Linked DNA regions of Homo sapiens. The protein of the gene in region 3 purifies or fractionates together with the protein of the main gene of each other region. This does not show direct contact. Each region holds a gene or a part of one and is shown on either strand. Other genes may lie near its edges.

The links.
Region 1: the proteins of PTPN5 (region 3) and SLC27A4 purify together in Homo sapiens (affinity purification with mass spectrometry, with the first as the bait; 2 studies listed by BioGRID). This does not show direct contact.
Region 2: the proteins of PTPN5 (region 3) and FAF2 purify together in Homo sapiens (affinity purification with mass spectrometry, with the first as the bait; 2 studies listed by BioGRID). This does not show direct contact.

The regions. Positions count from the first base shown.
Region 1 is NC_000009.12:128,342,785-128,352,368, reverse strand, and holds part of SLC27A4 (long-chain fatty acid transport protein 4), read right to left. Parts: intron 9,243-9,584; coding exon of another isoform or gene 9,237-9,242; coding exon 9,076-9,236; intron 7,215-9,075; coding exon 6,820-7,214; intron 3,825-6,819; coding exon 3,666-3,824; intron 2,058-3,665; coding exon 1,988-2,057; intron 1,886-1,987; coding exon 1,794-1,885; intron 1-1,793. UniProt on the Homo sapiens protein: Mediates the levels of long-chain fatty acids (LCFA) in the cell by facilitating their transport across cell membranes. Appears to be the principal fatty acid transporter in small intestinal enterocytes.
Region 2 is NC_000005.10:176,489,706-176,500,384, reverse strand, and holds part of FAF2 (FAS-associated factor 2), read right to left. Parts: intron 8,192-10,679; coding exon 8,053-8,191; intron 6,387-8,052; coding exon 6,301-6,386; intron 6,202-6,300; coding exon 6,110-6,201; intron 3,900-6,109; coding exon 3,722-3,899; intron 1,472-3,721; coding exon 1,300-1,471; intron 383-1,299; coding exon 239-382; intron 1-238. UniProt on the Homo sapiens protein: Plays an important role in endoplasmic reticulum-associated degradation (ERAD) that mediates ubiquitin-dependent degradation of misfolded endoplasmic reticulum proteins.
Region 3 is NC_000011.10:18,779,638-18,790,316, forward strand, and holds part of PTPN5 (tyrosine-protein phosphatase non-receptor type 5), read right to left. Parts: intron 1-10,679. UniProt on the Homo sapiens protein: May regulate the activity of several effector molecules involved in synaptic plasticity and neuronal cell survival, including MAPKs, Src family kinases and NMDA receptors.

The DNA.
Region 1 (9,584 bases), on a different chromosome or scaffold from region 3:
TATTCAAGCTGTCTTCCCTTAAGCCCCTACAAACAAGCAGCAATGCCATGCATATCTGTGGAAACAAACTGAAATGAGACAGGCCCAGATGCCCCGTGGGACACTGCCACACACACTGTGAGGCTGGTGTGCTCATCCTTTTTTCAATTTAAAACAACTTTTTTTTTTTTTTTTGAGACGGAGTCTCGCTCTGTCGCCCAGCCTGGAGTACAGTGATGCCATCTCGGCTCACTGCAAGCTCCGCCTTCCGGGTTCATGCCATTCTCCTGCATCATCCTCCCGAGTAGCTGGGACTACAGGCGCCCGCCACCACGCCCGGCTAATTTTTTTTTTTTTTTGTATTTTTAGTAGAGATGGGGTTTCATCGTGTTAGCCAGGATGGTCTTGATCTCCTGACCTCGTGATCCGCCCGCCTCGGCCTCCCAAAGTGTTGGGATTACAGGCGTGAGCCACCACACCTGGCCTAAAACAAAATTTTTTTTAGAGACAGGTCTCACCATGTTGCCCAGGCTGGCCTTAAACTCCCAGGCTCAAGTGATTCTCCTGTCTCAGCCTTCCCAGTAGCTGAGACCATAGGCATGTGCACCACGCCTGGCTAATCCTGTTTATTTTTATTTTTAAATTAAATTAAATTAATTTATTTATTTATTTTGAGACAGAGTCTTGCCCTGTCACCCAGGCTGATGTGCAATGGCACGATCTAGGCTCACTGCAACCTTTGCCTCCTGGGTTCAAACCATTCTCCTGCCTCAGCCTCCTGGGTAGCTGGGATTACAGGCACCCGCCACCAAGCCCAGCTACTTTTTGTACTTTTAGTAGAGACAGGGTTTCACCATGTTAACCAGGCTGGTCTCGAACTCCTGACCTCGTGATCCACTCACCTCCCAAAGTGTTGGGATTACAGGCGTGAGCCACTGCGCCCAGCCTATTTTTATTTTTTTTGAGACAGTGTCTCGCTCTGTTGCCCAGGCTGGAGTGCAGTGGCGTGATCTCAGCTCACTGCAACCTTTGCCTCCCAGGTTCAAGCAATTCTCATGCCTCAGCCTCACAGGTAGCTGGGATTACAGGCACACGCCACCAGACCCAGCTAATTTTTTTTTTTTTTGAGACAGTGTCTCGCTCTGTTGCCCAGGCTGGAATGCAGTGGCGTGATCTCAGCTCACTGCAACCTTTGCCTCCCAGGTTCAAGCAATTCTCGTGCCTCAGCCTCACAGATAGCTGGGACTACAGGCACACGCCACCACACCCAGATAATTTCTTTCTTTTTTTTTTTTCCGAGACAGAGTCTTGTACTGTTGCCCAGGCTGGAGTGCAGTGGCACGATCTTGGCTCACTGCAAGCTCCACCTCCCGGGTTCACGCCATTCTCCTGCCTCACCCTCCCGAGTAGCTGGGCCTACAGGCATGAGCCACCACACCTGGCTAATTTTTTGTACTTTTAGTAGAGACGGGGTTTCACCGTGTTAGCCAGGATGGTCTCGAACTCCTGGCCTCAAGTGATCCGCCCACCTTGGCCTCTCAAAGTGCTGGGATTACAGGTGTGAGCCACCACACCCAGCCTAATTTTTGTATTTTTAGTAGAGATGGGGTTTTGCCATGTTGGCCAGGCTGGTCTCGAACTCCTGGCCTCAAGTGATCCGCCCACCTTGGCCTCCCAAAGTGCTGGGATTACAGGTGTGAGTCACTGCGCCTGGCCCAAAGCTGTGTGTTTCTACTGCAGCACACTGCCTGATGGGGGTGGGGTTCCTAGAGACCTGGCAGGTGCTGGAGGCTGTGTGACAGCCCTAGAGTTACCTGCTGAGTGGTAGAGGGGGAGGCAGTCATAGACGATGTCGTTGGGCCGCATGCGGAATCCATAGTACACCAGGGCAGCCATGCGGTAATACCTGGGAAGGCACAGGGCCAAGGGCTGAGCGGGCCCTAGAAAGGCAGAAGGAGGCTCCCCAGCCCTGCCTGTGCCTACCCCACCCTGGGCACCTGCCCCTTACCTGCTGTGCACCACGATGGCGGCCTTGGGCAGCCCTGTGGTGCCGGATGTGTAGATGTAGAACAGTTTATCTAAAGAAAACAGACGCGAGTGGCTGTCGGGGGCAGCTCAGGGCTGGGCAAAGGGTCACACAAATGGACACCTGCAGGTGTGCACCCTTCAACACCTGTTCCCATCACACCCTTGCTAGGAAGCCTGTTCTGATAACCTCAGATACCATTCAGCTCTAACACCGGCATCCATTCCAACAAATATTTCCTGGGCCCTTGCTCTGTGCTAGGCCCTGGTGGAGAGAGACATCAGTGAGTAAGATGGGCACGGGCCTGGCCCTCTTGGCAGTCACAGCTCAGTGGAACAGTCAGATGAGGACACAGGCAATTCCAATACTAAGCAACAAGTGCCGAGGGAGGGCACAGGACCTGTTGAAACCCAGTAGCCACATTTGGCCCAAGCTTGCAGGAGGGGAGGTGGTGCCAGGTGGGCTTCACGATAAAGGTGACACCTGCCCCAAGTCATAGAGCACAGGGAGGCATTAGCTGCAGGAAGTGGGGTGTTGAGGTAGCTTCCGCACTGCTGAGCATTGATCTGTCCCACTCTGCAGCCCTCGACAGGGATTGCCACGTTAGAGTTTCTATGTGAGGCTCGGCCCTACCAGACTTGAGGTTCCCTGGAGGTCAGGAACTCCACAGGCAGACTCCACGTGTTTAGAATGCCTGCCGAGACACCTCATGCTCTCTGCCTGCCTGCTGTTTGCCAGCCCTAGGCACTATGAGGGCACCAGAGCAACCAGCCAGAGTCCCTGCCCTCAAGCAGCTGACAAATGCACCCAAGAGACCAGATTCACATACAAGAGAGAAGTTAAACAGTGCTGATGACAATGACCAGTTACTGAGCCCCTCCTGCCACACCCTAGCTTCAGGACTGGCCCCACTGTATTTTTTTCAACCCTCAAAGATACCCCATAGAGTAGGTTCTGCTACTGTCCCCAGTTTTATGGCTGTGGGAACTGAGGCTCCAAGGGCAGGGCAGGTGTCAGGGTTCACACAAAGGAAGCAGTAGAACCAGGATATAAACTCGGATCTGACTCGACAGCCCAAGCTCTGAGCCACCAGGCAATGTGGCTTCACAGGAAAGAGAATGAGAAGAGCAGAAGAACCAGGTAGGCTACAGTATAAAAGAAGAGGGGTGAGAGGCTCAGGAAGGCTGCCTGGAGGTGGGGTCAGGGAGGCAGCACAGTGCTGGGAGAGGATCACAGCTGGAGATCCTGAAGTGTCCTGCACTGAAGAGGCACTTGATGAATATACAAAGGGTCTTGCTCCTCACCCACCCTCCCACCCAACCCCAACCAAAGCCCAGACCAGGCAGGTTCCCGGAGTCCACAGGATTCTGCCCATTAGGCATCAATGAAGGCTTGTTCAACAAATCACACTGGACTTTGTGAGCTCCTGTGTTCTCAGCCCTGTATCTGGCACTGATACACATCAGCTCATGTCACCTTCACAGTAACCCTGGAGTGGCCCAGGTTTACTGTCACCATTTTCCAGATGGAAAAAGGGAGGTGACGTGACATGTTCCAGGCACATGGCAAGTTTCCAGAAAAGCCTCCTTCTGGCACTGAGGCCAGTGCTCTGTCCAGGGCCTGTGTGAGAGCCCCTCTATGGGGAGGGGATGGAGCCCACCTGTGAAGCCCTTGTCAGGGCAACTGGGAAGGTGCTTGGGAGCATCTTTCAGCAGAGGGTCCAGGTGTTCTGTGCTTGGAGGCACCGCACCGGGCTCCCAGGAGCCAGAGCAGAAGAGGCTGAGCGAGGGGTCCAGGCTGGCATGGACCTCACAGATGGCTGTGGGGAGACAGGGCAGTCAGCAGGCAGGCCAGAAAACCCCATGTTCCCAGGGACCTCTGCTCCCAGCAGGGCTGGCCATGTTGCTGAGGATACTGGCTGGGCAGGAGGAGAGGCAGTGAAGCAACTGGGCCTTCAGTGTTGACAGGGGCACCGGCAATGGTTCTATTAGCCATGGGCTAACCACAGAGTAGGTCCGCTTTACCTGCATTCCCTGGTCTCACAGCCCTGGGAAGGAGGGACCATTGACAGCCCCTCTTACAGATGAGAAGATTGACGCTCCGAGAATGAGAGGACCTGCTCACAGCTAGAATGTGCTGGACCTGGCGTGCAATGCCAGCTCTACCTCACATCAAGGTCTGGGCTCCCCCCCACTATCCCGCACTACTTACTCTGTGGTGCACCAGATAGAAGGGAGGAGTGCGGGTCAGAGGCCAGTGGCCCTCCATCCCCTTCCGAGAGCGGGAACCTGCTTTCAGGCTCCCCTGCGCACTGCACGGACATCACATAACCCCCACCCCCGGGCATGGAGCAGCGCTGGTCGGCTTGGCCCCACCTTCCTGGCTTCCTCTTGATTTGCCCAACCCTCTCTTCTTCCCTGGCTGCCTTCTTCCCTCTCCCCTTTCAGCACCATTTTTTTCTTTCCTTTCTTTTTTTTTTTTTTTCTTTTGCTTTTTTTAAATAGAGACAGACAGGGTCTCACTATATTGTCCAGGCAGGTCTTGAACTCCTGGGCTCAAGAGATTCTCCTGCCTTGGCCTCCCAAAGTGCTGGGATTACAGGCATGAGCCACTGTGCCTGGCCCCCTTTCAGCATCTTTTTTTTTTTTTTTTTAAGACAGAGTTTCACTCTGTCGCCCAGGCTGGAGTGCAGTGGCATGATCTCGGCTCACTTGGTTCAAGTGATTCTTGTGCCTCAGCCTCCTGAGTAGCCAAGATTACAGGCGTGTGCCACCACACCTGGCTAATTTTTGTATTTTTAGTAAAAACAGGGTTTCACCATGTTGGCCAGTCTAGTCTTTAACTCTCGAGCTCAGGTGACCTGCCCTCCTTGGCCTCCAAAAGTGCTGGGATTACAGGCGTGAGCCACCATGCCAGGCCCCCTTTCAGCATCCTAATGACTTCCCTATTCATTATCCCACAACCACAACAGTGTGGGGAGAAAAAACAGAGTGCTGTGATCAAGCTGAAGATCAAACCCCAGTTCTACCACTTACTAACTGTGTGATCTTGGGTGAGCTCCTCACAAACCCCTCTGAACTCCAGGCTCATCATCCATAAAACCAAGATCCCTACCTCACTCGGTCTTTATAGAGATTAGAGCTGCTCTTGGAAAGCAGCAACCTCAGTACTTTGCAGGTGCCCAATGTGGCAGCAAATAAAATGCAGGCTCTGTGAGGAAAGTGGGGAATTAATTTTGTTCCCATTTTACAGATGAGCTAGATACGGCCTAATTAGTCACAAGGATGATTACCATTGTACTGAGGGGCCACCTAGCATCAGCCATGTTGCTAGTGCTTCAGGTAAGTATCTTTTTTTTTGACACGTAACCTCTCTCTGTCATCCAGGCTGGAACACAGTGACGTGATCTCGGCTCACTGCAACCTCTGTCTCCTGGGTTCAAGCGATTCTCCTACCTCAGTCTCCCGAGTAGCTGGGACTACAGGTGCGCACCACCATGCTCGGCTAGGTTTTTTTTTGCATTTTTATTAGAGACGGGGTTTCACCATGTTGGCCAGGCTGGTCTCAAACTCCTGATCTCAAAGCTGCCCACCTCGACCTCCTAAAGTGCTGGGATTTACAGGCATGAGCCACCACACCCGGCCTTTTATTTTGTTTTTTTTGAGACAGGGTCTCACTCTGTCTGCCAGGCTAGAGTGAAGTGGCACAATCATCACTCACTGCAGCCTCAACCTCTTAGTCTTAAGTGATCCTCCTGCCTCAGCCTCTGAGTAGCTGGGACTACAGGTCCATGTCACCAAGCCTAGCTAATTTTTTAAAAACTTTTTTTAGGCCGGGCGTGGTGGCTCATGCCTATAATCCCAGCACTTTGGGAGGCCGAGGCGGGTGGATCACGAGGTCAGGGATTGGAGACCAGCCTGACCAACATGGTGAAACCTCGTCTCTACTAAAAATACAAAAAAATTAGCTGGGCGTGGTGGCGGGTGCCTGTAATCTCAGCTACTCAGGAGGCTGAGGCAGGAGAATTGCTTGAACCCGGGAGGTGGAGGTTGCAGTGAGCCGAGATCACGCCACTGCACTCCAGCCTGGGCGACAGAGCAAGACTCTATCTCAAAACAACAACAACAAAAAAAACAAAAAAAAACAAAAAACTTTTTTTAGTAGGCCAGGTGTGGTGGTTCATGCCTATAATCCCAGCACTTTGAGAGGCAGAGGTAGGTGGATCGCTTGAACTCAAGAGTCTGAGACCAGCCTGGGCAACATGGCAAAACTGAGTATCTACAAAAAATGTGAAATTTAGCCAGGCATGGTGGTGCATGTCTGTGGTCCCAGCTATTCAGGAGGCTGAGGTGGAGGGACTGCTTGAGCCTGAGAGGTCAAGGCTGCAGTGAGCTGTGACTGCACCACTGCACTCCAGCCTGGGTGACAGGGCAAGACCCTGTCTCAAAAAAATTTCTTAGTAGAGACAGGGTCTTACTATGTTGCCTAGGCTGGTCTCAAACTCCTGGGCTCAAGGGATCCTCCTGCCTTGGCCTCCCAACATGCTGGGATTACAGCTGTGAGCCACTATGCCCAGTCTGAAGTACCTTTTTGAAAACAGTATGAGGTAGGAACGACGGATGAGGAAACTGAGGCTCAGAGAAATCAGTCCCTTCCCCAGGATCTCGTTTACTCGTGGCACTGCCTAAGCTGTCTGACTCCACTCTGTGCCCTTAACCACTGACCCACACAGCCTTGGCAGGGCTGGAAGGGAGCTGTGGTCTGTGTAAGATCCCATGGGGTTCCTGCTTGTCCCCCGCCCCCTTGGGGCTCACCTGAGGCCATTTCGCTGCCAAAGACAAGGGCCCGTGCGCGCGAGGTGGTGAGGCAGTGGAGCAGAGCATCCCGCCGCAGGTTGGTGTTGATGAGGGCTGCCTCCACACCGAGCTTGGCCATGCCCAGCCATAGGCCCACGAACTCATTGCGGTTCTCCATGAAGATGGCAGCCACATCGCCCGAGGCCAGGCCCCGGGCCTGCAGGAAGTTGGCTACACTGCTTGAGTACTCATCCAGCTGGCGGAAGGTCCAGTGGGTATCTGTGCCCTCGAAGATCAGGGCCGTCTTGTCGGGGTGGCGCCGAACGGTAGAGGCAAACAAAATGGGCACTGTCCGCCGCTCCTGCAGGCACTGTCGCACCTTTGCCTTCACCTTCAGGAGGACCAGGCCGCCACTGTGTGTGAACAAGAGAGGGCGCTGTGTCTGCCATGGTTGGGAGGGAGGGGTCCTGACACCCTACCCCAGGCTGCTGCCTCGCCAGCCTATGCTTCATGAGCCAGACCCCCTACAACACTTCTATCTCCTGGCTCCTGCTGGGAACATGCACTGCCTTACTGATGCCTCTCAATAACACTGAGAGTTCGTATGATTCCCCTCCCCTTACACAGAAGGAAATCAAGGCTCTCGTGGTGCCGTGGCCTGCTCAAAGCTTCATGGATGGAGGGTGGCTGAGCTGAGATTTGAACTCTAGGCCTCTCTGGCTCCAGAGTTCTACTCCTACCCTCTCAGCCTGCTGCTCCAGCAGAAACCTCCTAGGTCTCCAGAGCTTCCTGTAAAAGTCCAAACTCCTTGTTTGGGGCCTCCCACAGTCCAGCTGCTCCCTCGACCCACCATGACCACAGTAAATAATGAATGAGTTTGCTGGTCTGTCCAGTCTTCCTCCCTGTGAGCCTAGCTGGGATAGGCTTCTGTCTTATTCAACACTCTATCCCCTGGGTCCTGTGCCAGGCAGAGTAGATGTTCAATAAGTTTGTGGAATCACTTGGCAACATCCCATTCCTGCCACCTTTGTTTTTTTGTTTTTTTTTTTGAGATGGCGTCACACTCTGTCACCCAGGTTGGAGTGCAGTGATGCAATGTCAGCTCATTGCAACCTCCACTTCCCAGGCTCAAATGATGCTCCCACCTCAGCCTCCCAAGTAGCTGGAACCACAGGTGTGCACCACCATGCCTGGCTAACTTTTTTGTATTTTGGTAGGGACGGGGTTTTGCCATGTTGCCCAGGTTAGTCTCAAACTCCTGAGGTCAAGTGATCCACCCACTTCGGCCTCCCAAAGTGCTAGGATCACAGGTGTGAGCCACTGCGCCCAGCCCTGGACTCCATGCCTTTGTTGCTGATGCTGTGCCTTCTGGTTGGATTCATCTCCTTCCACCACCACTAAGGCGCCTCTCAAGTACAGCCGCTTTTTCTCCAGGAGGCCTTCTCTGATTCCCAGGGTCCTGGCTGGCAGCTGTTTCTCCTTGCTCCATGCTCCCACAGCTACCACCCTTCCTGGTGTGCCACTCCGTGCCTTCTTTTGCAATCAACCAAGATTGACAAATGCTGAGCTGCCTGTGTGGGGTGTGGGTCACTGAACTGGGTGCTGGGACACAGTAGTGAGCAAGGCTGTGCCAGGGTCTCTGCCCACATGGCACTGCCAATTTACAGATGTGCTGTGTCCCTTTCTTTCTCCTGACCAATCTGAGCTTGGCAGATGGGGTCTGCCTTATTCCTCTCTGGACCCCAAAGCTAGCCTGGCACCTAGTAGAGAACAAGCGGGAATAGATATTTCTGGTACAGGATGTCCCTTGGAGCATACCGGGCTTTCTTTGGGGAGCAGGTTATCCCAGACATCTGAGTAGGGGCTCTGCTCTAGAACTCAGTGCCCCCTGTGCCATCTCACACCCCTGCCAACCTGAGGGCAGGGCCTTTCCCCAAAATTCCTCTTTACCCTTTCATAAACTTACAGAGTCCTCAGGACCCCTTGCAGATGTCTCAACACACTTGGTGTTCAATGTACGTCCTAGGCCAAGCCTGCCCAAGGCCTGGGAGCCTCAAGTTAGGGAGATTCCCTGGGAGAAGACTTTGACCTTGGAGATGGAGGGACCAGGTACTATTGCCAGGGTACGGGTGTGGAGCAGAGGCTGCTGTTCTGGAACTCAGCTCAGCTGCCCTGTGCTGGTAGAGAACATGAGGTCTGGCCTGGGGAGATTTGGGGGACCAGAAGCTCACTGTAGTGTGGCAGACCCCAGGAAAGGCTGGGCCAGGTACTCACAAGATATCGCGCCTGATGGTCTTGATGAAGACCCGGATGAAGCGCCAGCCGCCAGATCCCAAGTAGAGGAACAACAGGGAGAATCCCACCTGGGTCCAGGGCAGTTTCAGCACCAGCTTGGAGAACAGCAGCACCCCCACCAGAGAGGCTCCAAGCAGCATTGTGGCCTGCGGACACAGGGCAGTTAGTGGACCCAAACACCCAACCCTCCAGGTCTCCTACCTCCCAGCCCAGACAGCCAGGCCACTGTGATCCCAAGGGGACAGCCTGTGGTAAGGCTTAGCCATACTGAGTTGGGTGACTGACCACAGGGGTCCCTTTCCAGGCTTGGCCTGGAAGGGGCAGGCTAGGGGCTTGGCACTTGAGGTGAGGAATTCCAAGAGTGAGAAGCAGGAGGCTGGTTCTCGTCTCATAGTCCCATCTCTGCCCACCATTCTCCAAGTGACCTTGGGCAAGACCTTTTCACATTTTAGACCTTAGTATCTGCCCTCTGTGCAATGGGTGTAGTG
Region 2 (10,679 bases), on a different chromosome or scaffold from region 3:
TAATTAAACAAAAACTTAAAAATTGCTTTGAGTTGGAAACTAGAACTGAAGGAGCCTACAGCAGTCCTCGGTACTCTTCCTGGTGTCCACGGATGGCATACCCATCTCTCTCTCTCTCTCTCTGTTCCCTGTTCATCAGAGCAGCAGATACACCAACACCACTCTCAAGAGTCAGTAAAAGCTCCAAATCTATAGCCCAGATGCTACATACACTTCACAGAACTTAGGTGGTCCTTACTGTTAGAGACTGTGAAAAGTGGAATCGTCTCTCTACTCGAGAATCATTAGGTAATTTGAAGATGATCTTGACACTTTCAGGGTCATCAGGGGAAGGTTCAGGGGGCAGGCATTCCAACTTCCTTTCCTTTTCCTCCTGTAAATTCTGCAGAGACACAAAGCAAAGGTGAGGCTACAGCTCAAGAAATAAATACAATGACCATGTAGCTTTATTACGCAGTCGTCAGAAGAAAAATTAATGACTAAGTATTCTAAGAAAAACCTCTCAGGAATAGTCAAAAACAACCTAAATTTAAAGTACAATTGCATCTCATGTATTCTTTATTATGTCTAGGTATTTATTTGAGAAAAAGGAGAAAGGGAGCAGGGTGCCATGGTATGTGCCTGTAGTTCCAGCTACTTCAGAGGCCACAGCAGGACTTCTTAAGCCCAAGAGTTTCAGGGTGTAGTGCTCCATGATTGCACTGGTGAATAGCCACTGCACGCCAGCCTGGGCAACACAGTGAGACCCTGTCTCTTAAAAAAAAAAAAGAAATAAAAGGAAATGACTAAAAGACACTGGTTATAGGTAAGCGGTAATACATAATCAAATAAGATAATGTATATCTCAGTCTGATTGCTAGGGAACAAAAACAACAACAAAACAAAACAAAACAAAAACAAAAAGATAATGAGTAAAATGCCAAATCAGCTAATACTGGTATTAAGAATGAATATTTAGGGCCAGGCATGGTGGCTCACGCCTGTAATCCCAACACTTTGGAAGGCCAAGACAGGCAGATCATGTGAGGTCAGGAGTTCGAGAGCAGCCTGGCCAATATGGCAAAGCCCGTCTCTTTTTTTAAATTTTTATTTAAAAAAGAATGAATATTTAAATGGTATGAAAAATTTAAATCACCCCTAATTCCAACATGTTGTAATTTTTTCTTTCCTTTTTCCTTTTTTTTTTTCCCTCTTAGTCTGTTTAAGGTGGCTATCATTTTTTCCTTTCACACTTAAGACCAAGATGGCAAAGTCTCGGCAGTTTGGGAACCACAGGGAGTAAAGCCACACGTCCATTACCTGCCGCCGTCTCTCCTCTGCCAACTTTTGCTGTTGCACCTCCTCCTCCTTCCGCCGCTTACGCTCCCGCTCCTCCCGTTTCTTTCTTTCTTTCTCCTGGTCAGCTCTGAGAGAGGCCAGGTAGGCCTCATCCTGCTGTTGTCTCAGCACTTGGGTCTGGTTTCTTTCTTCCCTGTGAATAGATCAAAAGCAAGAGAAGAAAAACAGCACTCTCACAAAGTTCTGTGTTTTCTTATATTGAAATCTTCTGTGTGTGTGTGTGTGTAAAAATGTTGATATTCTTAGCAGATGACGATTTCACACTGCCATAAGGGATTCCAAAAGCAGAGCGTGGCAGAATCTGAATAAGCCACCTTTTTTCTCAGTTTAATTTGGCAGAAAAGGAAACAGCAAGCTTTCCTCTCCTCTTTTAAAATAAAACTTTTCCCCTAATTCTAACAAATGTGACACAGTACTGTTATTATGAAGGGATCATCAATATCATATTTTACAAGTAAATACCATTTTGGGTGACTGCATTTTTGTACTGATCTCATAAAACCAAAACACACACATATATATCCATACACACATTGTAGCAGATCTGAAAATGTAGAGTTTTCAGAGTCATTCAGAGAATCACTAATCAAAGATAAAACATTATAACATTTGGCATATCTCCTATTTTCTCTCCAACAAATTTCTGTTTTCTCTTAGCCAAAATATTTAGCCAATCAAAATAGTTGAACAGATTTTATCTTTAAAAATTAAGATAAAATTTACATGCAGTGAAATGCACAGATCTTAAATGTACAATTCAATGAATTTTGATAAATGTAACCATGTAATCACCACTCCAATCAAGACAGAACATTTCAGTTACCTCGGAAAGTTTCCTGTTCTATACATTTTTTTACACAGTTAAAATAACGCTATTATTTACAGGATTTTGATCTTGCATTTTTCTTTTTTTTTGGAGACAGGGCTAGCCTGTCACCCAGGCTAGAGTGCAGTGGTGCGATCATGACTCACTGCAGCCTCAACCTCCTAGGCTAAAGCAATCCTGCCACCTCAGCTTACAGGCGTGTGCCACCACGCCTAGCTAATTTTTGTATTTTTTGTAGAGATGGGGTTTCACCATGTTGCCCGGGCTGACCTCAAACTCCTGAGTTCAAGCAATCTTCTTACCTCAGCCTCCCGAAATGCTCGGATTACAGGTATGAGCCAACATGCTCGGCCTGATTCTGCATTTTTCTAATATGTAACAAGCATGTCCCCATGTTATTAAAAACTTTCCATAAAATTTAAGTTTGTTTAACTTTCTTGAGGGCAAGTTGGCATTACAAATCAAGAGCCTTAAAATATACTTATATTGATTGTCTCACCCAGAAACTGCACTTCCAGGAATTTAAATTTTAATCTAAGGAAACCATCACAAATTGCAAAAAATTATCTCCCTATATGCTAATTATAATAGTAACAAACCGAAAATAATCTAAAAATCCAACGAGAGTGGCCTGGTTAAATTATGATGTATTTAGATAATGGAATGTTATGCAGTAATTTTTAAAATGTGGCAGAATATTTAATGATGAGGGAAAAGGCCGTGATATATTCTTACATAAAGAAGGGTTGTAAAAAAGTATTATCCCAATTTTACAAATAAATGTGTACGTATATAGGGGTGTGTGTTGTGTATAAAATTAAAAAAATTTATAACAATGTTCAAGTGGTGGTAGGTTTATCAGTGATCTTAAATTTCTTCCTTGTGCTTTTTTGTGGTTTTAGGATTTCCTATAATTAATGTACATAACTTATGTAATGGAGAGGAATTATAACCATTCCACTTTTTTTTTTACATCGAAGTTCTTTATATTATATTCAGCTATTCTAAATGCCACAATATACATTCTTGAGCACAGAGGCCTGTCTTTGTTTATTCATTCATTTATTATTTTTTAAAGACAGAGTCCTGCTCTGTCATCCAGGCTGGAGTGCAGAGGCACAATCAGAGCTCACTGCTGCCTCGAACTCCTGGCCTCAAGCAATCCTCCTGCCTCGGGCTCCCAAGGACCTGGGACTACAGGCATGTACCACCATGCCTAGCTAATTTTTTCTTATTTTTTGTAGAGATGGGGTCTCGCTTTGCTGCCCAGTCTGGATTCAAGTAATCCTCCTGCCTCAGCCTCCTAACGTGCTAGGATTTCAGGTGTTAGCCACTGCACCCAGCCCTTGTCTTTATTTTGAACATCTCTAAGAACAGATTACCTGATATAGAGTAATTTAGGTCAAAGTATGTAAATATTTTGACAATAAATGGGCAAAGCTAAAAGCTAATAGCGGCCTGATGCACAGAAGAAGTCAGGATTGGTAGAGCCCCAGAGGTCAGCCCTCCAAATTTACAACTGGTCTCTCTCTGTTCCAGAAGGGAACTCCCTTGTACCTTTCTAGGCGTTCTGACACCAGGTAAGTCTGGTTAGCATCCATGATAAATGTCAGTTGGTTAATGAGGTCATCAGGTTGAATGAGGCCTTCTAGCCGTCCCACCACAGTCATCCTTCGATCCTTCAGCATAATCATGGCCAGGAATGGATAGGTGTTCTCTCGTAAAGCCTGTGAGACTGATAAAAAGACCCAACAGATCAAGGGCAGGACTTGACGGTGAAAAAGATCAACCCTTAGACTTTCCACAATGAGTGAGAGAGAACTGTTTTAATCCTGGTTGGGGAAGACGAGAGGTATCATTTAGTCTCCGCTTTTTCCCCGCCTCCTAGTTTCTTTCTTTTCTTTTTTTGAGCCAGGGTCTCACTATGTTGCTCAGGCTGGTCTCCAGCTCCTGGGCTCAAGTGACCCTCCCACCTCAGCCTCCTGAGAAGCAGGGATTACAGGAGTGTGCCACCATGCCCAGTTCCTCCCAGTTTTGTAATCTTTTGTTTTTGTTATCAATTTGCATGCCTATCCCTAGGTGCTTGACTAGAATAGGACAGGCTTTCCTGGTGGCGGTGTGGTTGTTGTGATGATGCCAGGGAAGGCTGCAGAGTTTAAGGATAATGTCTACTTGATGGTACAAAAAGGATCTATAAAGAATCTGGCACAGTTTTTCCCTGTACAAGGGCTCAAACCTAAAAGGGCACAAGGCTGCAAGTCTCAGCCTGATGATACTGATAATAATCTCCATCATCATTTTTTTTTCTCTTGCCTAATCCTTTCCTTATCCTTTCTCCCCACGTAACTTTTCTCCACCCTTAAAAAGGTTAGTTTTTCTGTTCCAAAGAAGCTTATTAATAGAAAGTTGAGGCTGGGCTGGTAGCTCCACCTTTAATCCTAGCACTTTTGGGAGGCGGAGGTGGTTGGATCACTTGAGGTCAGGGGTTTGAGACCAGCCTGGCCAACATAATGAAACCCCATCTCTACAAAAAATACAAAAATTAGCAGGGTGTGGTGGTACGCGCCTGTAATTCCAGATAGGCGAGAGGCTGAGGCAGGAGAATCGCTTGAACCCGGGAGGTGGAGGCTGCAGTGAACTGAGATCGCACCACTGCACTCCAACCTGGGTGACAGAGTAAAACTTGGTCTCAAAAAAAAAAAAAAAAAAATTGGTGTCCAAATGACCAAGATTTTTACCATAACAGAGTTTTACCTATGTTTTCCTTATGGTGTGAAATAAGAGATTTTATAAACTTCTATTAAAAAAAAATCCTTACCTTCCTTCTATTCACAACCTCCCTTCTGCCCCCTGCAAAGCCATATTAGAATGGCAAAACGCATGCAGGAATTTGGATGTTTAAAAACAATTAGGCTTAAGATTCAGACTCTGGGATGCAGGGACAACATCTGCCACATCTTTGGTTCTCAAGACATGGCACAGTATGTGGCATGCTAATATAAACTCAAAAGTTGCTGGATAGAAGTAGCCACAAAAATGACTACATTTTTCCTCACTGGATGCCTTCGTATCTTTTACTAACCGTCTAAAAATACTTATCTCCAAAGAAGAGTTATTGTCAGCAAAGATCTGAACTTTCCAAATCCATATCAGCACTCAAGGTACTCAAACAACTGACTCACTATGCAAGGGCTCTGTTAAAATCGTTGATGAAAAGAATAAACTCTTCAGTAAAAAGCCCATTAAGATTAAAAGCAAGCTGCTAGCCAAGACTGGGTATTTCTATGAATGTGGCAGGCTTTGGCAATGCTGAATGTGAAGAACGGGCTTTAGAATCTGGCAGACCCGACTGTACGCTACAACTTGCTAATTATGGCGGGGCACAGTGGCTCACACCTGTAATCCCAGCACTTTGGGAGGCTGAGGTGGGCTGCTCACTTGAGTCCAGGAGTTTGAGGCTACATGGTGAAACCCCATCTCTACTAAAAATACAAAAAAATTAGCTGGGCGTGGTGGTGCATGCCTGTAGTTCCAGCTACTCAGGAGGCTGAGGCAGGACAATCGCTTGAACCCAGGAGGTGGAGGTTGCAGTGAGCCAAGATCGCACCACTGCACTCCAGCCTGGGCGACAGAGCAAGACTCCATCTCAAAAAAATTTTTTTAATTAATTAAATAAAAACAAAAAAAATAAAACTTGCTAATTGTGTGATCTTCAGCCAGTGGCTTGAACTCTCTGAGCCTATTTCCTAAACCATAAAGCAAAGGTAATATGACCCCCCATCTCTCAGGACTGCTGAGAGGATTAAATGAGACAATATAAAATAGCAACTAGCGTCGTATCTACCACAGAACAAACACACTTGTAATAAATGGCATGGCATGTCTTTCCAGACTATTCCAAAGATACTCCAACAATCTCAATGAGGCAGAAGAAACATAACTTACCCCTGTATCCCTCAGGTTTGTTTGTAGAGCATGCCCAGAAGAGCATCCTAGTGTTTATTAGTGAAATAACTTCAGGTGCACAGAGTGTGTTGCTGTGGAAAGGTATGAAAAGGATATGAGAACAACTTGCTGACTATAAACTGTCACCAGAAAGAGTCAGAAAAGAGAAGGAAAATAATCAATCCACTTACCGACAAAACTCATCAGAGTCCTGGTGATCATCTCCATGAAGATAAACCAAAAGAAAGCGAAGCTCCCTTTTGGCATCGTTAAGTGCCTGTGAGAAAGAGAAGGTCACTCACTATTAAGAAGACTGTGCCTTGAGCTTATATTTAAGCTAAGGGTCCTAATGGATACAGTTATGTATTTAGGAACAAAAGGAAAAATAAGGAAAAAAGGTGAGCAAGAAATCAGAAAATTCCTGAGCTCCTACCTTCACACCCCTGGCATTGTTCTCCCTATAGAAACTCCACGCTAACAAGCTTTAATGAAAAGGTTTTAGTGTTGTTAGGATTCAAACTTAACAGACACATGAGAGTAGACAGGCTTACAAACACAGGTTCCCAACAAACCACAGAAAAGTCAGCTGCACCCACAGTCTAAGGAAGATAAAAACAGGAGAATCTGACCATATGAAAGGGAGGTGAGAATTTTTCTACTTCACAGCTACAACATCCTTGTAAGTAAAAAATAACTGCGAAGACAACCCTGATCCCAGGCCACATATCGAGTAGGAATGATGGACTGTACGATCCAAAGGCATTCTAAAGAGCATAGGGTGTAAAAGACTTTCAAAGACAAGGCTAGCGCCGAAGACTCCTGTGCGTGCTCCTGCATGTGCGTGCTCCTGAGCACATTACACTGTACGACTGCTGACATGGTCAAGGGTGGTCTACCCTCAGGATCATAGCAGAGAGGGTACACAGGAGGTGCTCATCTCACTCATCTCTGTATCTCTAGCACTGAGGACATTGCCTGGCATACAGTAGGTGCTCAGTTTTTGTTGAGTGTGGTGGGAACAGCCAGCGAGGAGACTGACTATGATAAAAAGCAGATGTGGGAAAATGAAAGCAGGAAGCAAGGGTGAGCATTTTTCTTTCTCCAGATAGATTCAGGAATTCTGGAGGCTGCATAATAGAACCCCCTTTTGCCTATTGCCACAGCATTCCCATAGTTTTCCCTATTCCTGTAGTGTTAATTCTATGTATTTCTCTGGCAAACTAGAGATATACCAAACACCCACAGAACTCTAATTTTTCCTCCCCTGAATGGTGAGGTCTTGAGTCAAAGGTCTACATGGCTGAGGTTGAATGAGATGTGCTACCCTGAGTCTATGGTCTATGTCCTTATTCAATTCTGTGAGAGATCAAAGAAGATGTAGGCTTTGCCTTCAAGGGGCTTTCAGTCTGGTAGCAGAGATTAGACACGAACACAAATGATATAGGAAAGAATATAAAATTGCTATCAATTTTTAAAAGCTATGGAAGAACAAAGGGAAAGATTAGTATTCTAGATGATGAGATAGGGCAGGACAGGGCACAACAATCAGGGATAGCTGTAAGTGGGGCGTGACATAATCTAGTTGAAGGACTGGCAAGATTCCAATTAGCAAAAATGTGAGGAAGGCATTCCACGTGGATGGACCGGCAAAAGCAAAGGCACAGAGGTAGGCAAGTACAGACTATGTTCAGGGAATGAGTCAGCTGGAACTGAGGGTATGGTAAAATAAGTTATGCAGAAAAGACCTCAAAAGAAGGGCAGCATTAGATCAAAGAGGGGCCAGCTAAAAGGTTTGGTCTTTTTTATTACCCACCCCTATAAGCAGTGAAGAGCTAATTAAGGTTTTTGAGTACAAGAAGGACATGATCAGTGCTGGGCTGTGCTCTCCTTTGAGGATAGAATCATTTCGGTAAGTTGGCATCTATATGGTTTATGGCACTGACCTGGCTGTACGTTCCCTGGTAGAAGACAGGGTGTGCCCTCCCATATTTCTCTTCAAAAGAGTGCATAAATGAAACAATGTCCCCAACGGGGTCAGTGACCCGGCTGCGAGGGTCAGGCCGTATAAAACGAAGAGCAAACCTGGGGAGGAAGGAATAAATATCACATGAATCCAGCTTACTACAGTGCATATCGAGTGGGCCAATTTGTACAGATTCCTGTAACAGAGCCAGAGGCACGGCAACAAAGGGAGGTGAACAGTCTGTGAGTGGACCATCAAATCCGAGAGTAGAGTCTGGTTCAAAAGCCATAAAGCAGCAAGTGTTATTCTATTGCCTGTTCAGGAAGAATGCAAACTACTGGGATTATAAATTCCAACACTGGCCTACATAAATCCTGAGTATTTTTTGTAGAACAATTTAGGGCTAGAAGGGTTTGGAAGGGAAGACACAGTATCCAAAAAGATCATGTGTCAGGCTATGCACCCAGACTCTCTAGAATGGCACCGTCTAAGTACTGTAGCCACTAGTCAAATGTGGCTATTCTGAATTTAAATCTATTACATACAATTAAAATTCAGTTCCTTAGTAATGCTAGCCACATTTCAAGTGCTCAACAGCCACGTGTTTAATGGCTTTCATACTGAACAGCGGAGATACAGAACGTTTCTATCATCACAGAGAGTTCTACTGGACAGTGCTCTAGAACAGAGGTCATTTTCTGGTTGTCCTACTTGCCCCTCCTTCTCCTTTCTGTTTTCCTGGGATTTTAAATATTGAGTTCACAACCCCAAACTATTCAACTTACGGATAGGAACTTCAAATCTGAAGTTGCGGTTATGACTTACTTGCTCTTCAAAGGGGCAAGTACCTTTTGCTTGATGATTTATGGTTGATGGCAACCATGGAGGAAGTTATAAAACTGCTCCACAGTACCCTGGCAGATGTGGAGTACTGGCAGCTCTTGTAAAGTGAAGAATACATACCTAATGGTACCACACATCTGTTTCTAAAGGGCCTACCCTATTTGTATAGTACCATTTATTTATCCTTTGGGTTTCCAGAGAAGGCAACAGGACAGAGGATAATGTGTTACCTAACATTAAACAAGCTGGTTGGATGATACAGCTGCATTAAAATTAGTAATACATGCCGTGCATATTTTCCCTAGAAAAGCAAACAATATTCATTTACTTAAAACGTTTTCAGCACAGACAAGGTGATTAAACTGTGATACTTTTCCTTAACAAAAAGTGAGTCAATTCATTATCCCAACAAATTCCCCCTGTGTATACAATTCTACTTGGAATTTCTCCCGAGTAATCAAACCAAATTCATTGACAACAACGTTCCAGAGCGAATTAAAAGCACAAAATGTAGTAAGTTGTATACGTGGGGGAATGGTTAGAAATTCATCAGAAGACTGATGTTTTAACTACTTTCTTTGAAATTAAGCATTTTAGAATTCTCTCTTAAAGCCTTTATTTTTTTTTCCTCATTACACAATATTCCCACGATCTACACAATTTAGGACAATCAGCTTTTTTGATTTTTTAGAAAAAAACAGAGATGTCAACTTAGTTTTCATTATGATTTTAAAGATTTTTACATGTTCATTCTTAAATAAAATGGGGATGGAAAGAGTACTAAGCAATTAGTGATCATGAAGAATGTTGCTAAACCAAGAAAGCCATTAAGTAGACAGCCTCATAAAACACCAAGGGTCCAATATAAAAGGTACTATCTGACCCTTGTACTTATGCAGCTGCTGGACCCACAACTTCAGCCTCTGCTCCCTAGAGGCAGGGTAAAGGCTGTCCCATATTTGAAGGGAAGTACAGGGAACCTGTACTTCCAGGGAAGGCCCAGACTACATATCCCAGCTCCATCTGCTGGCCTGGATGCCCTTGAACATTTAAGTTCCCCATAAAGCCTAGACATGGCTCTGGACCAGATAACCCAAGCCTGACATGCTAAGAAGTTGTGCCCCACTCATTTTCTTTTCTTTTTCTTTTTTTTTTTTTTGAGACGGAGTCCCACTCTCTCACCCAGGCTGGAGTGCAGTGGTGCGATCTAGGCTCACTGCAAGCTCCGCCTCCCGGGTTCACGCCATTCTCCTGCCTCAGCCTCCTGAGTAGTTGGGACTACAGGCACCAGCCACCGCGCCCGGCTAATTTTTTGTATTTTTAGTAGAGACAGGGTTTCACCGTATTAGCCAGGATGGTCTTGATCTCCTGACGTTGTGATCCGCCCACCTCAGCCTCCCAAAGTGCTGGGATTACAGGCGTGAGCCACAGAGCCCGGCCAGTTGAGCCCCACTCATTTTCTGGCCTTGGACCCTCTGTAGCTTCCAATGATGAGCTCTTTTAATGGTACATGAAGGAAGCTAGAAGAAAGGTGAAGGTATGAAGCAAGTGGGTATATACATAAAAGGGTTCCAGTGTTTGCAACCTAGGGGCTGCCAGAGCAAAGTGAAAAGGTACCGAAGCTGCCAGGCATGGTGGCTCATGCCAGCAATCCCAGCACTTCGGGAGGCCAAGGCAGGTGGATCACTTGAGGCCGGGAGCTCAAGATCAGCCTGGCCAACAAAATGAGACTCCATCTCTACTGTCTCTACTAAAAATACAAAA
Region 3 (10,679 bases):
TGATTCTCTCCTTTCCCTGTGCCAGTGGACAGCTGGAAACCTGGGCCCAGGGCAGGCTGTCAACAGAGGTCCTCAGTCACGGGCTGAATTCCTCAAAGCACGACAGACTGACCATTCTGAGATCACATATTGTAAGGCAACCCTGGTCCTCCGGGAAAAGGATGAATTCAGAGGCAGAGAGACCTGGCTAACATGCTGTGCTCTGCCACTTTCTCCACAAGGGGCCTTGGGTCGGTGTCCTAACCTCTCTGAGTCTCAATTTCCTCCCACTTAACATGGCACCGATGAGAGCTGCAGGGTTGTGATGAAGCCTGGGAAGCGAGGGCTGTACATAGGGAGAGCTTGGCAGTCCTGGGCAGGCCTCCTTCTCCATATTCCTGCTGACCTGGCTCGAAGCTTCACTTCCTGTCTCCCTCCAAGTCAACCTCACACAGGAGACACTCCTGCTCTTTGTACCAGGCAGTGCCATCAGCTACAAAGGTCTGCTTCCTATTTCCTCAGGCTCTGTCAGGTGTTCCTGGAGCTAATGAGAACAATGCAGGTGACAGCAGCTGGAGGATGAGAGGGGTCTTCCCAGCAGAACCTCCTCTGCCCTCTGGAGAGCTCCAGGCTGTTTCCAGGTCCCCAAGTCAGACCCAGAGCCCTAGGAAAGGGCGGGTAAAAGAACTGGAAACTCCACTTCACAGGATTTCCCAAATCCTCCTCTGCCATGACATCCGCCTGCCCCAGCCATGCTCCCTCCTGCTTTTCTGCCTTAGTCTCTCAGCTCCTAGAGCGGCCCCTAGCTCCTGCCACACCCTGCTGTGGGCTCCAGCTTCTCATCAGGGCCCCTGCCCCCCGCCTAATTTAACCCTTCTGCACTCAGGCCTGGCCAGGAAAGGCCTTCCTGCTCCTCCTCTTTGTGCTGTGGTTTCCAGCCCTTCCAAGGCCCACCTCAGCCCAGGTCTCCTCCAGGAAACCTCCCTAGTGAGTCTAGGGTGTGTTGACCTCTCCTCTGGCTCAATCCTTCCCCCAGCACTTTTTGTGACTTGGAAACTGGTAATGAGCCACACCCTGTCCCGGGCTGCTCCCTGGCTCTCTTGTCCATAACTTTGGCTTCTGTAAACTTCCCAGGCTGACAAGGGGCAAGGGATAAAACCCCCTCTTTATCCCCCACGACAGAAAGCCCAGTGCAGAGGAGAAAAAAACATGGAAGGCAGGTCCAGCTCTTTCCTTTACACTCAGATTTGGAAGGAAGATGGGAAGGAAAGACCAAGTGGGAGAAAAAGAAGAAAGACATGAGTGGAAAGGAGTGAAGGAAGAGGGAAGGGCTGCTGCATGACACTCAGTACCAGGGTCATGAGAGGACAGATCAGGCCCACGATCCAGGTGGCCTTGAATCATGCTTTAGGGCTCTCACACTCTGATTATGCAACTCCTAGGCTTGACACAGAGACCTCTTTGAAAACCTTTGGAACTCACCTCCTCCAGGCAGCCTTCTGAGATTGACTCTGATCTTTGCCGCACCCCCCCGGCCCCGCCCCGGCCCCCTTGACTCCCTGAGCTGCGCTACTTTGCACTCATCCATGCCACTTCCCATGATGCTAGGTCCTCTGGGGAAGGGATGGAGGTCTCTGCCTCACTGGCAGGAAGTCAGTTTACATTTATCATCTGTAGCCAGAGATCAGACTGTCTTTTTTTGACCACTTTTTTTTTTTTTTGAGATGGAGTCTTCCTCTGTCACCCAGGCTGGAGCGCAGCGGCGCGATCTAGGCTCACTGCAGCCTCCGCCTCCCGGGTTTAATCAATTCTCCTGCCTCAGCCTCCCAAGTAGCTGGGACTACAGGAGCCTGCCACCACACCTGGCTAGTTTCTGTATTTTTAGTAGAGATGGGGTTTCACCATATTGGCTAGGGTGGTGTCAAACTCCTGACCTCAAGTGATCCACCCGCCTCGGCCTGGTGCTGGGATTACAGCCATGAGCCACCATGCCCAGCTCCAACTTTATTAGCTCCAGGGGGTGGTTCAGAATATATTTTGTATTTTAAACCCAGTTTGTCTCTAAGATAATCTTACTATAATCTTATATCAATTTCTTTAATATCAGGCTCTGTACTGAGCCTTGGGGGACACACAGATAACTAAGAGCCAGTCCCTGCCCTCCACCCAGCATTCGGCCTAGTGAGTTGAGTGAGAAATGCATTAAAGGCCCACTGAGGCTGTCTTATGGGAGCACTCAGGAGGGCACAAAAACAGAGTCTGGGAAGCTGCACAGAAGAGACCCGAAGGACAAGCAGGAGTTCACCAGATACAGGGAGGACATTCCAGGCAGGGAACACTGCAGGGCAAAGGCCCGGAGAGGTGAAAGCACAAGGTATGCCAGGCAGACGAGGCAGCTCAGTGTAGCCACAGAGTAGACGTAAGAGGGACTCTTGTCACACAGCAGACGGCTTCATGAATCAGCCTAAGACACACTAACTTTGACTCACAGGCCATTTTTTCTCAGGGGGACAGAGGCAGGTATTGCCATGCTAGTTGGCATTTAGAAATCTGTGTGTGTATTGGGGGTTAGTGGGGAAAACGTGACAACGTGGATGGATCTCAAAAACTATGTCTTTTTTTTTTTTTGGAGATGGAGTCTCGTTCTGTCACCCAGGCTTGAGTGCAGTGGCATGATCTTGGCTCACTGCAACCTCCACCTCCCAGGTTCCAGGGATTCTCCTGCCTCAGCCTCCCGAGTAGCTGGGACTACAGGTGTGTACCACCATGCCCAGCTAATTTTTGTATTTTTAGTAGAGATGGGATTTCACCATGTTGGCTAGGCTGGTCTCGAACTCCTGACCTCAGATGATCCACCCGTCTTGGCCTTCCAAAGTGCTGGGGTTACAGGTATGAGCCACTGCGTCTGGCTTCTTAAAAACTATTTCATGACACAAAAGAGCATGTACTATATGATTCCACTTATATGACGATTAGGAACAGACAAAATCCATCTACAATGATAGAAATTGGAATAATCGTTATCTCTGAACTTTTGCGGGTGATGGAAATCTTCTGAGTCTTGCTCTTGGTGATGGTTATATGAGCTCATGCAGTTGTCAAAATGCACTGAACAGAACACTTAAGATCTATACATTGGACTGCTTGTAAAGTAAACCTGAAGAACATGTGTGAGCATTTTTGGTTGTTATAATGACTGAAGGGTGCTCCAGGCAAATATATAGGAGATGGGGCCAGGGATGCTTTTACATCAAAGAACTCTCCCACCCAAAGGCCAGTAGGTCCCTGTTGAGAAATACGGCTGCAAGCTATGGGGAGCCACAGAAGGATGGAAACACCAGAGACTTGGCCACATCTGTACTTTGGTAAGACAGGGCTCTGTGGTGGTGGGAGTATCTTGGGACAGTGATGTGGCACAGAAGGTGGATATATGATTTTCACTGCCACTCCTAGGCCTCGTATTTGCCTAACTCTTAGCCCACTGGCCTGATGCTGCCCCGAAGGGGCCCCAGGAGGTCCCTCTGAGGTACCTCAGATGCTGACCAGCTAGGGAAGTAGCAGAGGCAGCAGATGGCAGTGGGAAATGGCAATGCCTCACCCCCAGCCTCCCTGCCTCATGATAAGCAGCAAGGATGATAGAAGTGATCATCTTCCTCTGAAGTGGAGTCTCAGTGAAGGGGTCTCCCTGAGTGTCTAGAGTCCCTGGAAGCAGGGCTGAACGCTACTGCTGCTACTATAGGAAAGCACTGTTTTACATCATGGGCTAAAGAAGAACACAGCTGACTTGCGTGAAAATACTCACCTGACCCCTGCCTTCGGAAAGCCTTCTCTGACCTCCGTCCTGGGCAGGTGTCTCTCCTGTGTTCCCACAGCCCTACAGAGCACAGTTACTGCCTAGGTTTAAATTCTGGCTCTGACTCTTGCTGTGCGTACCTGAAATAGAGTTACTCAAGCTCTCTGTTTCCTCACCTGCAAATTGAGGATAACAGAAACCGTCTTCACTGAACTGTCACCAAGATTGAGATAATGTAGTAAGCACTCAGTAAGAGTGAGTGCTTATGATGAGCCTAGAATGCATCAGTACAGACCACTGTTGCCAGGTGACTCCTCTGGCACCTCCACTAGACATTAAGCTCCTTGCGGGCAGGGTCCTTGTGGTCGTGTTGATTGCTGAGGGCCTTGTGTCCACCACAGTGCCTGGTACAGTAAATACTTGCATGCTTGAATCAATTCCACCCACTAAGATCTCTCCTGAGAGCTTTCTTTTTCCACCCACAATGCCTCTAAATCACAACAATTCTTCAGAAACGGAGTCAGACTCATTTGTATTCTGTTCCCTCTTCTCTCTTCTCTGTTACCTCCATGGCCATGCAGAACCCAAACAACATTTAGTTTTTAAATTAACAGCTTCTTCCTGGACTCTCTATTCCTAAGACTTCACTCAGTGGTCTTCATACTGGGCACACAAAAATCCTTTTTAAAAAATGCACCCTGCACCTCTCAAAAAGTGAAACACAGAATGATCATACGATCCAGCAATTCCACTGCGAGGTATATACCCCAAAGAATTGAAAGCGGGGGCTCAAACAGATCCTGGCACACCAATGTTCATAGCCGTATTATTCACAATAGCCAAAAGGTGGAAACAGATGAATGGCCAAACAATGTGGTATATCCATACAATGGAATATATTCAGCTTTGAAAATAAATGAGATTCTGATATATGATACCACAGAGACGACCCTTGAAAACATTAGGCTAAGTGAAAGAAGCCAGACAAAAAAAGACAAACATGATGCCACTTACACGAGGCACCTAGAATAGGTGAATTTATGGAGACAGAAAGTAGAACGGAGGTCACCAGAGGCTGGGGGAGATGGGAATGAGGAATTAGTATTTAATGAGTACAGCGATTCAGTCTGGGAAGATAAAAAGATTCTGGAGATGGACAGTGGTGATGGTTGTATAACACTGTAAATATACTTAACGCCACAAAATTATACAGTTAACATTGGTTAAAATGGTAAATTTCGTGTTATGTGTATTTTACCACAATTTAATAAAAGCCTCCCACACCAAACAAACAAAACACTGGAAGGACAGACTTCCCTCTGAAATCTGACAGAGCTGCATGTCCCTCTGCCACCCCTAGGGCTCTGTGACCTTGACCCCCTGGCCCATGATCTATCTTCCTCTCCATCCTCTCCTTGGTTCCAACTCTTGGGTTCCCTGTTCTTTTTCTTTTTTTCTTTTTGAGACAGGGTCTCACTCTGTCACCCAGGCTGGAGTGCAGCGGCGCTATCTTGGCTCACTGCAACCTCTGCCTCCTGGGTTCAAGCAATTCTCATGCCTCAGCCTCCTGAGTAGGAGGGGCTGCAGGTGTGCGCCACCATGCCTGGCTAATTTTTATATTTTTACTAGGGACAGAGTTTCACCGTGTTGGCCAGGCTGGTCTCAAACTCCTGACCCCAAATGATCCCCTGCCTCAGCCTCCCAAAGTGCTGGGATTACAGGCATGAGCCACTGCACCAAGCTCCCTGTTCTTTTTCTACTCCAGACGCCAGGGCCACGACATGTTCTTTTCCTTGCACCCCTCTTTAACCACCTTGATCCCATCATATCTCTTGAGGGTGCTTCAGATGGATGCTTTGAGACTCTGAGATGGAAAAGCTATGTGCCTGGAGATGCTCATTATTGACTATGTGCAACAATAAAGACATAGTTAAATAAAGCAGGGGTCAGCCAACCAAGTATAAACAGAGAAGTCATGACAAAATGTTAAGTGAAAAATGCAGGCTATAAACCTATATGTGGACTAATTTCAACTATTACAAAATACAGATTTACAGAAAACATAGAATAGGGCATATAAAATGATGGTTCATCTTACGTTTGTTCTCTAGCATGGAGTATGGTTATTTTCACAACTGTAATTTATAATTTATACCAGACAACATCTTTAGGCAGATGATGAAATACACACATTGTTAGTTTTGCAAGAATCTTCAGAATTGATTCCAGATGCCCATATGCTGCCACCATTGAGGCCCACAAATCCCTCCCGAAAGGCTTGCAGAGGAATGGGAGGCGAGGGGCTGTTTCATGTCGACTCTTCAGAAAGACACTTCAGGACTTGGTGTGTCTCTCTAATGACTCCAACCAACTACCTCACCACAAAAAAGGAGGGCAATTTAGGGTCTTTATTTTGCTACTGGACTAACCAGGAAATTTGGCTGTGAACAGTTTATCCCTTACATTAGCCCAAAGTTAGGAATTCCCATGATGCTTGTTCCCTTACAAATCTGCAAACAGTGGATCTCCCGCATCTGGTGTGAGGGGATCCCCTCCCCATCCAACATGCTACACCCCAGGTATAGAAACTTGAGTCACGCTTGCTTCAATGGGGACAAAGGAAGGAGGGTGGCTTCTGTTCCATGTGCTGCAGCACAGTGGGAAAAGCTTTTCTCAGTCTAAGAGTTTGGAAATTACTGAGTTTTGCCAGACACCGGTGGCCATGATGCTCGTTCCACATCTCACCAGATGCAGAAAAGATGGAGATGATGTTAAAGAATGGGGGGAATCTATTTTTTTTTTTTTTTCTTTGAGACGGAGTCTCGCTCTTTCGCCCAGGCTGTACTGCAGTGGCTCTATCTCGGCTCACTGCAAGCTCCGCCTCCTGGGTTCATGCCATTCTCCTGCCTCAGCCTCCTGAGTAGCTGGGACTACAGGCGCCTGCCACGGCGCCTGGCTAATTTTTTGTATTTTTAGTAGACACGGGATTTCACCATGTTAGCCAGGATAGTCTCGATCTCCTGACCTCATGATCCGCCCACCTCGGCCTCTCAAAGTGCTGGGATTACAGGCGTGAGCCACCGCACCCGGCCTAGAATAGGGGGAATCTTATTTTCCACAATCCCCTAAGATAAGGAAGAGCCTTTTGGTGATAACACTGCTTAAAAGAGAAAAGAGTTTCTAGTTTTTGTTTTTCTTTTTTCCCCTTGAGATGACCTGAGTTTCTACCTTCTACATATGACAGGTGACAGACCTGTGGCTGCAGATGGAATCTGGACTGGGGGTCCAGAGATCCTGTGATTCTAAGACTGAGCCTGCATGTCACCTAGCCCCTCACATGGTCCAGCCAGTTTTCCCATCTCCACCTGTAGATCCATTTCAACAACTGATTAGGTGCCCGAAGCATTTATATGTCTATAAATAATTTCTCCCTCCCCACTGCCTTCTCTTTTTGGGAATCTGTCAGTTTACTGGAGATGATAGCATCTTGTCCTGCAAATATGGGTCTTTGTGTTAGAGATGAGTTTCCTTAAAACCTCTATGAAGGAAATGGTTGAGAGTGCAAGAGAAAATTTGAAATGAAGCCAGAAGGATGTATATTTGTGCGGGGAGGAGGATGAAGAAAGACCAAAAATGTTATTTTCATTGTTTTACAGTCATTTCAGGTACGTTTTACTATTTCGTCTTAGTCAACAGCAGTGTTTATAATATAAAGCCATACTGAATAAAATATGCAGACTTCACTTAAATTTTCATACTTGAGTGACAACACAGCATTCAAGTTATCTGAGCTTTATTATTTTGATCATAGTACAGATTACTATACCCTTACTATGGTATAATATCTTTATTTATTGGTTCATATAAGTCTAAGATATGCAGTCTCACACATAAATGGTCATTTCCAACATTCATTCATTCATTCATTCATTCACTCATTCAACAATGATTTACTGTGAAGGGCCAGGCTTGGTTTGCTAGGCACAAAGAATATAAGGTGAATAGGATATGTGTTCTCTTAGATTCATTAACATCATGCAGCTTCTCATTCTTCAGGTCTATAGGCCCTTACATGATTGGCTCTGCCCACTCTCTCACCTTTTTCCTTATCACTTTCCCCCTTTGTCTGTCTCTTACAGGTACACTTCAGGTTCCTTGAAGACACCAAGCTATTGTTACCCCAGGGCCTCTGCACCTGTGGTCTCCTCTTTTTAGAATGCTGTTCCCCAGGTCTCCTCTTCACTCAGGTCTTTGTTCAAATATCACCTCCTCAAAGACAATTCTATTTAAAGGCAGATCTCTTTCTCCATTCTTCCTCCCAGTCATCCCTCTTCCTACTTAATTTTTCTCCAAAGCACTGCTCACCACCTGAACAATTTTATCTTCTGTCTCCCCTGGTAGAGCTTGGGCAGGAAGTTCGTCTTTTTAGCAACGTATCCCTAGGGGCTAGAACAACCTGGCATGTAACAGATGTTTATATGTATTCAGAGAATAAATGAATGAATGAACTGGTTCTTGATAGTTTAGGGTGCTTGATGAACCAGCTTTTCAGGAGGGCTCATTATGGTCCCTGGTAGATTCATAGTCCCTACTCCTAAGCCTCCCACTCCTCCTCCTATTGGGCTGTGTCTGTGAATGACATCCTTGGCCATTCAGCCTCAAAGCCTTGCCATCACTTATTCTTCCCTCCTGTTAGTGCCTACATCCAATCAGTTACCAATTTTAGTGACACTGTGGCCTCTTGCATCAACTCCTTTTTCTAACCATTCTTACAACCACCCCCAGTCCATACTCTCTTTATCTCTCACCTAAACCATTGTCATCATTTCCTACCTGGGCTTCTGGCCAGCAGGCTCTCCACATCCAATCTGTTCTCCAAGGGGTAGCCAGAGTGAGTTTCATCATGTTACGGTTTGATTATGTTTCTCCCCCACTCAAAAACTAAAGACTCCCAACTCCTTAGCTTGGCAGTCAATGTCCCCCCAATAACCTCCATCCCCTTACCCAACCTTCCTTCTCAAGTCCCTTCTTTTATTCTTTTTGCTCCAGTTGGAATGAACTGCTTTCCAGTTTCTGTATATATCCTAGAAGTCCCCATGCCTGTCCATCCTCTGCTCATGCTATTTCCACTCCTCGAAATAGTTTTCTTCCTTTCTTCTAACGTACAAATCATTCACCCAGTTTAAATGCTACTTGGCTTCTCCAAGAAGCCGTTACTGACCTGTGAGGAGAATAAAAGTCCTCTTTCAACTGTTTTTAAGGGGTTATCCGCCTCTCTTTTAGGGCAAGTCTAGGGAAAGGACAGGCAATACGACACAGAACAAAGAGTTCAGAATCTGGAGTCAGATCATCTGAGCTGGAGGCCTAGCTCTCTGGATCTGAGACTTTTGAGGTATGCACCCTTAGATAAGTGAAAATCCAAGCCTTAATTTCCCTATCTGCAAAATGAGGATGATAACACTATTGTCACGGATGTCTTATGAGGAGTAAGTGACAGAGTATAGGAAGAGCTTTTGACACTACATACAAATTAATTATGAAATTCTATTACGCTAACGTACAAAAGGTTGAATAAACAAAAGTGTTGATCCTCCCAGGGAGTTTTCACAGATGTTTTATGCTGGCTGAGCCTGAAGTCCAGGAATAGGTCAGGGGGAAAGGAATTTTTTGAGGGAGGAGGACTTTGAGGCCTTAAGAATCCCATGTCCTTGGATGATCTGAAGAAAGGAAGAAGTATAGGGTATATCCACAAAGCTGGAGTCCTAGTGGAATTACTAGCTACCAATTCCTGAGCATTTTCTATGTGTTAGGGACTGTACTAAGTACTCTACATACATCATTCTTGAGTCAGAAATTATTCCTTCATAAAGCAAAAGAAGCCCATAGCAGTTACATAAATACGTGCTCCCACCCCACCGCCAAATAGTTCATAACATCATCAATCCAATGATGTTATTTTTTTGGATGGAGAAATTGAGACCCAAAAGGGTTATATACTGACACCGTACAGCCAGTGAGGAAGAGACTGGGACTGGAATCCAGATCCCTTCACTCTCAAGGCAGAAATCCCTACATGGCAAAAACCCAGGGGCCACCATTCATTATGAAGTCTGTGTAAACTTCATAGCCAATGCCATCTACATGGACTACACTGTCAGTGGCAGCCCCTGAAGTTCTGCCACTTGGCCACCCTGGCTCAGCTCCATGATGAGCTGCTCACCCCCCTCAAAAAGGAAGTTCTCGATGGAACTGGAGACTATGATTCTAAGTGAAGTAACTCAGGAATGGAAAACCAAACATTGTATGTTCTCACTCATAAGTGAGAGCTAAGCTATGAGGATGCAAAGGCATAAGAATGACACAATGGACTTTGGGGACTTGGGGGAAAGGTGGGAGGTGGATGAGGGATGAAAGACTACACATTGGGTTCAGTGTATACTCTGGGTGATGGGTGCACCAAATTCTCACAAATCACCGTTAAAGAACTTACTCACGAAACCAAATACCACCTGTTCCCCAAAAATCTATGGAAATAAAATAAAAAAAGGAAGTTCTTGAGACCAGAACCTCAGGTCCCTGGAGACTGAACACTGCCCTCCTTGCCAACTATTCCATCCAGTCTCCTCCAAGGTGACTGACTCCATCCCTTCACCATCCGTCTATGCTTGTACTCCTTCAACACATCTCTCGGGGCACCCTCTCTGCACCAGGCATCAGGCTCAGCTCTGGGGACACCTGGCTGCCCTTGAGGGAGCCGCGTGCTGAGAAACCACCCGAACCTGGTGTGATTGTAACTCAAGCTTCCCCAGCAGCTTTGTCAGCAGCACCAAGAGGCTGCCCTTAACGAGCCCCAAGGAGAAAGAGGTGGGGACCTCCGCAAAGGGATGACTACAGGGGCCTGGTTGGA